3 separate regions of the Homo sapiens genome follow, and all the other regions are linked to region 1. Evidence: fine-mapped expression QTL. A gene starts in region 1. Each other region holds a variant in brackets. All regions are shown on one strand. Distances are from middle to middle.

Evidence for each region. PIP is the estimated chance that this variant, and not a neighbour inherited with it, causes the effect. A credible set is the group of variants that fine-mapping cannot tell apart.
Region 2: its variant is the best candidate, but not a certain one, in a credible set for the expression of UTP3 in whole blood (INTERVAL, PIP 0.65).
Region 3: its variant is the best candidate, but not a certain one, in a credible set for the expression of UTP3 in iPS cells (HipSci, PIP 0.71).

The regions. Positions count from the first base shown.
Region 1 is chr4:70,686,963-70,689,814 of GRCh38, reverse strand. UTP3 (UTP3 small subunit processome component) reads right to left here and starts at 1,283. Exons shown (of 1, transcript NM_020368.3): 1 at 1-1,283. The coding sequence starts at 1,137. RefSeq lists enhancers at 1,158-1,217, 419-1,387, 1,918-2,007, 1,388-2,358.
Region 2 is chr4:70,730,218-70,733,069 of GRCh38, reverse strand. The region is part of intron 1 of RUFY3 (RUN and FYVE domain containing 3); the gene reads right to left. Among named protein-coding and RNA genes, the nearest start is that of RUFY3, 9.7 kb to the right of the region's middle. RefSeq lists an enhancer at 1,403-1,652. The variant C/T (reference allele first, on the strand shown) is at 1,219.
Region 3 is chr4:71,269,783-71,272,282 of GRCh38, reverse strand. The region is part of intron 3 of SLC4A4 (solute carrier family 4 member 4); the gene reads right to left. Among named protein-coding and RNA genes, the nearest start is that of SLC4A4, 84 kb to the right of the region's middle. The variant T/C (reference allele first, on the strand shown) is at 1,425.

The DNA of each region.
Region 1 (2,852 bases):
ATAGTACTTCAGTTTTGCTTTTTCATCAAAATCAGAATCATCAGAAAGATCTGTAACAGCACAGGCAGCAGCAGAAGTCTTTGAAACAGACTTTGGTTTGGGCTTGGTGGATTTTGCTTTTGGAATCAGTTCTTTCTTTACAGCATCATCCTTAAGTGTCAACAGATGACGAATTTCTGAGGACAGCTTCTGATCCACAACGGACAGCTTGTTGATCAAATTTCGGTAGGTAACAAGCCTTTCTATGACAGGATGTCCATGTGCTGGGACTCTCCTAGCTTTCAGGATCAAATAAAAACTGATGTTCGAGCAATAATTCAAGTAGAGGTTGTACTTGGTCCTCAAGTATTGGCTTCCTTTTCCGGGTGGAATGATCCCTTGTTCCACCAACTCTAACAATGGCTCCAGCTCATCCTTAACCTCTGTCAACTTGACTTTCAGGTCTTCTATCAGCTCCAAGAGTTCTGGTGATTCCTTTCGCAACATTTTCAGCTTCTCTTTCACTGAAACTTTAGCCAAATCCTTCACGACCCGTGTCTCAGCCTCATCTACCTGAGGCACTGGTTTTGCAAAGGCCTCAACCCAGGCGACACCAAAATCATCCTCTTGCAGCGCTTGGGCTAGGCGCCGCTGAATGATCTGTGCCTCCTCCTCCTCCTCTCTTTCCTCCTCCTCTGCCTCCTGTTGACTCTGCCGGCCTCGGGACTTGGAACCATAGTCCGTGTCATAGTAAAGTTTTTTCCTCTGACCCCACGACAAACTGGGATCCACAGAGGCCTCAGCTTCACTTTGCACGGAGCTCCCACCATCATCATCGGCATTCTCCTCCTCCTCCTCCTCCCCCGCATTCCCTCCATCTTCGTCGTCCTCATCGTCCATATCTAGGGCTAGCACCTCCTCCTCCTCCTCCTCGCCATCCTCCTCGTCTCCACTCTGTACTTCATTCCAGCCCTTAGCTAAGGCGGCCCGGGATCGTGCCTCATGAAAGTCATCTACCTGATCTTGGTAGTAGCTGGTGTCCCCTGGTGAGGGTGGCAATCCTAAATCATCTCCATTTTCGTCGGTGAGCGTGGGACCTGCCTTGGCTCGCACAGCTGCCCACTTAGCTGCTCCGCGCCGCCGGGATCTCCCCACCATGGCTCACAATCTCAGGTTTTACAGCGACTCCGGACTTTCGGCCACCACTGACTTCGGCGCAGGAATCAGGCGCTCCGGTAACTCGTGGCTCTAAACAGCAGCGCGCTCCCCTACCACCGGAGTTTGCAGACTCCTGATCGGCTACTGGAATTTCCTCTTCCTTCCGGCCCCCAGCATGCTCTCCGCGTGGCGTACGATTGAGGACTTCCGCTCGGTCCCTTAGTCGAGATCACGTTGATACCAACTTCCTTTTCACTGTGCCCTTTAACGCCAGTCGATTCCGGTGAATTAAAATCTTTCCGTGTGGAAACGATAGGATAAGGAAGTTCCGTTCCACAGAACGCTTTCTCGGGCTAATGCGCTTACTCTCGAGTGCCTGGGAGTGGCTGGGGGACGGAATCCTGACGGCACCTCCAGGCGAGGTCCCGATGGCCAATAGAGGGCGCTGCGCTTTACGCCCCGGAGAAGTCCCGGGGGCGTTCCATTGAGGTTTAACTGCGTGTGTACCCGGCGCTTGCGACCGGCAGTCTAGTGCTAGCGTAGTTTTCCTGCTCCCTTGTTTTCTCTTTTCTGCTTATCAGGCTGGAAGTTAATCAGATTGCTTTCCTCTCATTTCACCCCCACCCCCAATACCATATTTCTGGGTACCACAGCCTCAGGCAGCGCCGCTGGACTCCAGAATCCCACGGGAGGTTTCCGGGCGAGAGCGCAGGCCGGGCCTCCGGCTCGGGTTTACTCATCCCCATCGCCCTCTCCCTGCTCACAGGGCTCGGTGACCCGCTCCATGGGGATCGATAAAGCTAGATGACCCCGAGGCTGACAGTGGGAAGGCAGAGCCCCGCTGCAGGGTCTGACTCTTCTCAAGGAAGTCTGCCCTGTAATGTTAGAGTAATTCAGGGTGTAAGTTTTTAGGCATTACATATGTAAGGTTCAGGGTTAGTATTATTATACCTTTTAATGTAGGTAGTTGGAAGCTGAACTTTTGATACGTTGCTAAAATTAATGGTGACATGGCTGGGCGCGGTGGCTCATGCCCATAATCCTAAGCACTTTGGGAGGCCGAAGTGGGTGGATCACTTGAGGTCAGGAGTGCAAAACCAGCCTGGCCAACATGGGGAAACCCAGTCTCTACTACAAATACAAAAAATTAGCGGGGCGTGGTGGCGGGTACCTGTAATCCCAGCTACTCGGGAGGTTGAGGCAGGAGAATCACTTGAACCCGGGAGGCGGAGGTGGCAGTAAGCCGATATCGCACCACTGCACTCTAGCCTGGGCGACAGACAGAGACTCTGTCTCAAAATAAATAAATAAATAAATAAAATAAAATTAATGGTGACAATTTCTTTTTCTTTTGTTTTTTGTTTCTTTTTTCTTTTTCTTTTTTTCTTTTTTTTTTTTTGAGACGGAGGCTCGCTCTGTTGCCAGGCTGGAGTGCAGTGGCAATCTCGGCCCACTGCAACCTCCGACCCCCTGGTTCAAGTGATTCTCCTCCCTCAGCCTCCCGAGTAGCTGGCATTACAGGCACGCGCCACCACTCCCAGCTAATTTTTGTATTTTTAGTAGAGACGGGGTTTCATCATGTTGGCCAGGATGGTCTCCATCTCCTGACCTCGTGATACGCCCGCCTCGGCCTCCCAAAGTGCTGGGATTGATTACAGGCGTGAGTCACCGCGCCCAGCCAATGGTGACAATTTCTTTTCAGAAAGTATAGTGTC
Region 2 (2,852 bases), 43 kb before region 1:
TTTGAAATGGAGTCTCACTCTGTTGCCCAGGTTAGAGTGCAGTGGCGCGATCTTGGCTCACTGCAACCTCCGCCTCCCGAGTTCAAGTGATTCTCCTGCCTCGGCCTCCCACATAGCTGGGATTACAGGCGCCCGCCACTGCACCTGGCTTTTTATTTTTTTTAATACTTTAAGTTCCGGAGTACATGTGCAAAACGTGCAGGTTTGTTACATAGGTATACATGTGCCATGTTGGTTTGCTGCACCCATCAACTCGTCATTTATATTAGGTATTTCTCCTAATGCTATCCCTCCCCCCAGCCCCCTACCCACCGACAGGTCCCCAGTGTGTGATGTTCCCTTCCCTGTATCCATGTGTTCTCATTGTTTGACTCCCACTTATGAGTGAGAACATGCGGTGTTTGGTTTTTTGTCCTTGTGATAGCTTGCTCAGAATGATGGTTTCCAGCTTCATCCATGTCCTTGCAAAGGACATGAACACATCCTGTTTTATGGCTGCATAGTATTCCATGGTGTATATGTGCCACATTTTCTTTATCCAGTGTATTATTGATGGATATCTGGGTTGGTTCCAAGTCTTTGCTACTATGAATAGTGCCGCAATAAACATACGTGTGCATGTGTCTTTACAGTAACATGCAAATCCTTTCTTTTAAAATGATTTTATGGAGTAATAGGGAATCACTGAGTTCACCAGAAGTTTGTTGGATATCTACGATAAATAGTACACAGTACCATGGGGCCTTCTGAAGAACGCCAAAGAAAAGGTTTGCCCTGAAGAACTTTCTATATAATTTCAGAAATAAGGAATCCCATGAATTAAATAACTGGGGAATGATTTCTAGCATATTCAAACAAATGTCCCAGATGCTAACCAGTGATTCAGGACATGAAAGGTGTGAGATCTGTTAGAGAAGGACTTGTAGATGAAGGGAGTCAGGGGTCCATTACCCTTCCTGATATAACACGGGCATGAAGAATCACAAGTCAGAATAGTAAAACAAAAAGAATAATCAGGATTTTACTGAAGCACAGTCTGACTGGAACAGGTAAGTATGTTGAAAAGGAGTTTGAAAAAACATTGAAAAAATCATCCAAAGAAGGGCATGAGAATGCTTGGCTAAAAGAATAATGATTACCTGTAGCTACTATTTCAAACAATCCATAATCGTGAACATTACTGCTATCACAAACTGCTTTTCAGGCTAAGTGCGGTGG[C/T]TCATGCCTGTAATCCCAGTACTTTCAGAGGCTGAGGCGGGTGATCGCTTGAGCCCAAGAGTTCAAGACCAGCCTGGCCAACATGGCAAAACCCTGTCTGCACTAAAAATACAAAAATTAGCCGGGCATGGTGGTGCACATTTATAGTCCCAGCTACTCAGGAGGCTGAGGCAGGAGAATCACTTGAACCTGGGAGGCAGAGGTTGCAGTGAGCCGAGACTGCGCCACTGCACTCCAGACTGGGCAACAGAACGAAACTCTGTCTCAAAACAAAAACAAAACAAAACTGCTTTTCTTATTGCTTTTGTACATCTGCTTCAGAAAGCTAAATTTAGCATATAGAGGTGTCACTTGCCAGCCAGGTCAGTTTCAGCAGTGTACTATTTTTGCTGTTTGGTAGTATATGCACGATTATGTAAATATTTTCATTTACTTTATAAAAGTGAGTGAAAAGAGGAAAAAGAAAACATGTGGACAAAAAACTCAGTCTCCACTTTAAAAGATGGCAATCACTGGCCAGGCTTGGTGGCTCACGCCTGTAATCCCAGCACTTTGGGAGGCCAAGGTGGACAGATCACCTGAGGTCAAGAGTTCAAGACAAGCCTAGGCCAACATGATGAAACCCCTTCTTTACTAAAGTACAAAAATTAGCCGGGCATGGTGGCGGGCACCTGTAATCCCAGCTACTCAGGAGCCTAAGGCAGGAGAATTGTTTGAACCCAGGAGGCGGAGGTTGCAGTGAGCCGAAATCGCGCAGCTGCACTCCAGCCTGGACAAGAGCGAGACTCCGTCTCAAAAAAAAAAAAAAAAAGATGGCAATCACCAAGCATGTCCCAGCTGGGATGCTTTTGGCCTTATCTGCATGCTGACTGTACTTAAGCTGCCAATGCTGTGTTCAATTGTGTATAAAACTTCTGCAAATATGTCATCAGAGACTGGGAAGAAGACTCCTCTTATTACACGCAGGCCTATTGTTGGACTTACACTCTAGAATTCTGGGACAGGAGTGTTGTGTATGGGTTGAACCATTGGTAGTCTGAGTTTGAATCCTGCCTCTACCGGTTATTACACCCTTGAATGTCAGCTTATTTTACTTTTTTTAATTTTTGAGATGGAGTTTCACTCTTGTCGCCCAGGCTGGAGTGAGTGCGGTGGTGCAATCTCGGCTCACTGCAACCTCTGTCTCCCAGGTTCAAGTGATTCTCCTGCCTCAGTCTCCCAAGTAGTTGGGATTACAGGCACCTGCCACCACGCCCAGCTAATCTTTTTTTTTTTTTTTGTATTTTTAGTACACCATGTTGGCCAGGCTAGTCTTGAACTCCTGACCTCAGGTGATCCACCCGCCTCAGCCTCCCAAAGTGCTGGGATTACAAGTGTGAGCCACCGCGCCTGGCCAAATGTCAGTTTATTTGTAAATTGGGGGTAATAGTTGTACCTAGGCTCAAAAGGTTGTTGTAAAAATTAAATGAGAGAATACATTTTTAACACTTGGAGTAAATAATTCCTAGCGGAAAGTAACTAATCAGGCCAGATGTATATTTTATTGCATTCAACTGATCATCTGTGCATCACCTCTCAATGTCAGACTCCTTATCCCTAAAAGAAGGTTAATAGAAAAGCACATATTTTGGCTG
Region 3 (2,500 bases), 580 kb before region 1:
GCCACAGTTAACACTCTGGGGAAACACTCTCAAGCAGCACCACTACATGAGCTTTTCTACAACTCACCTCCTACTGAAGCCTAGATGAGAGAAATGATGTTTACAGAAGACCAACCTATAATCTGGGTCCTGTAAAACATATCCTTGGATAAAGTAGAAACACTAGAAGATTATATATACTTGCATTTAGTTAATTTATGTCTCTAACACATTATAGGCAGCATGAATAGAATGGTGAGGACACAGGCTGTAGAATCAGACAAGGTCTGGATCTCAATTGCTGGCTTACTCCTTACTAGCTACGTGACCTTGAAGAAATAGTTTAAATTATTTGAGGATGAGTTTCCTTATCATTAAATGGTCACAATGATACCTTTAAAAGATAGTTGTGATCATTAAATGTTCATGAGGGTTAAATAAAATAAAATATGCAGAATAAAATAAAATATGCACTAGTAGAGTGCCAGACACATAATAGGCACCCAGCAAATGTTAGCCCCCTTGCAATGCATTTTTATGTTATTGAGTAGCTACAAATTTTTGTTGAGAGCATTATCTTCATTTATTCTTATTGCTCCTTATCTATGGCCTCAAGCAAAACAATTATTTTGAATACAATCCTAGTAAAATCTCCACTTCTCTGTAGCATGTTTTTCCTTTTCTAATAAGAAATATGTAACTGATTGTGCCTCTTTTTATCTTGGCTGCCAGGAAGCTCAAAGACAAATTAAATTCAACTGTAGGAACAATATTAATCCTAGTGGTTCTGGATATTGTGTGTTCTCCCTGGTTTGGTTTCTATTTCCACCCATATTTTATTATTTCAAGACCCCTCAAATCTTTTGTAGAATGTGAGAAGCTATTAACTAGCCAACACATTAATTCATTTCTGGGAGAAGATATCACTGTAGGTACTGTAAAAAGAGCACCAGATTTGGAATGTTCAAGTCCTAACTACTTCTCATACTTGTCCCCTCTCTGGAGGTAATTCATTTCACCTTTCAGATCTATATTTTCTCATGTAAAGCAGAAATAATAACCTCTAAATATCCCTCAGAATCATTTATGTATACAAGTATGCTTTGTAACCTGTCAAGCACTATGTAAAGGTCAGGTATTATTATTTTTATAATCAGAGAAGTGAACATTTAAACAAGTGAAGGTGTCCACATAGACATAATCTATGGTGCAGCACTGAGGACCCCTGCAGGCAAACGTGAAAGATGTGTAGTGGTGGGCACCCACAGCAGCCACCATGCTTACCTAGGCTGTCCAAAAAGCTATAGCAGGGATCCCTGGAAGAGAAGAGGCAGGATGGAAATAAATGTAAACACTTCAAGGGGCAATCCAAATTCAGTAAGTATCTCAAGCTAATTTGTTCTTTTGCTTTTAATCTAACTGATTTGCTTAGAAGACAGTGCAGA[T/C]GAGACCATGGTTTGTTCCCCAATGAGCCTATGAGCTCCACCCCTCACTCTCACCAGGTCCATGCAAGGAAAGGTTGAGGGGAGCAAGGGGGCTTATAATGTGGGAACCCAACATCTATCCTTAATCCCCTACTAAGGACAGTGGATACATCACATAACTGGTACATCCAAAAGTATTCATATACTAATAATGTGAGTCAGAGTAGGGGATGTTTTTAAGTTCAGTTTGGGTTAGAACCAAGTAGCTCTTAATAATAAGGAGTGTGTTTCTACATTTTTAAGTAATTTGCTGATTTATTCCAGGAGGTCAAATGTTCTCACAGAATCCCCAAGTCTTTTATTCCAAAACCCATCCCCTTCACTAACAACTTAATGTAGCAGCCACTTGCCATAGAGAAGAGAAAGAAGGAAATTCCTAGTATTTTGGAAAAATAACAAGGTAGAAGCTGGAGTTAAAAGTCACAGGTTCTGCCGGGCACGGTGGCTCATGCCTGTAATCCCAGCACTTTGGGAGGCCGAGGCGGGCGGATCACCTGAGGTCAGGAGTTCGAGACCAGCCTGGCCAACATGGTGAAACCCCGCCCCTACTAAAAATACAAAAAAATTAGCCAGGCATGGTGGCAGGTGCCTGTAATCCCAGTTACTCGGGAGGCTGAGGCAAGAGAATCGCTTGAACCCAGGAGGCAGAGGTTGCAGTGAGCCGAGATTGCGCCATTGCACTCTTGCCTGGGGGACAAGAGCGAGACTTCATCTCAAAAACAACCAAAGGTCATAGGTTCAAGTCCCAGCTCTTCTCCTTGCTAATGTGTGAATGTGATTAAGTTACTTAATGATAATAACTAATATACACTAAGCTGTATTATTTGCCAGTGCCCTTTGAAAGCTTTATACTCAGGTAACCTTCACAGCCACCTGGTGAGGTATATTTCTTTATCATCTTACCTCACAGATCACGAGAATGGAGACTTAGAGCAGTCAAATTACTTGCCCACCATCAAAAAGCTCGTAAGTAAAGTATACTGGGATCTAAACACAAACTACGATTCCAAACCTATGGTCTTAACCACTGTATAATA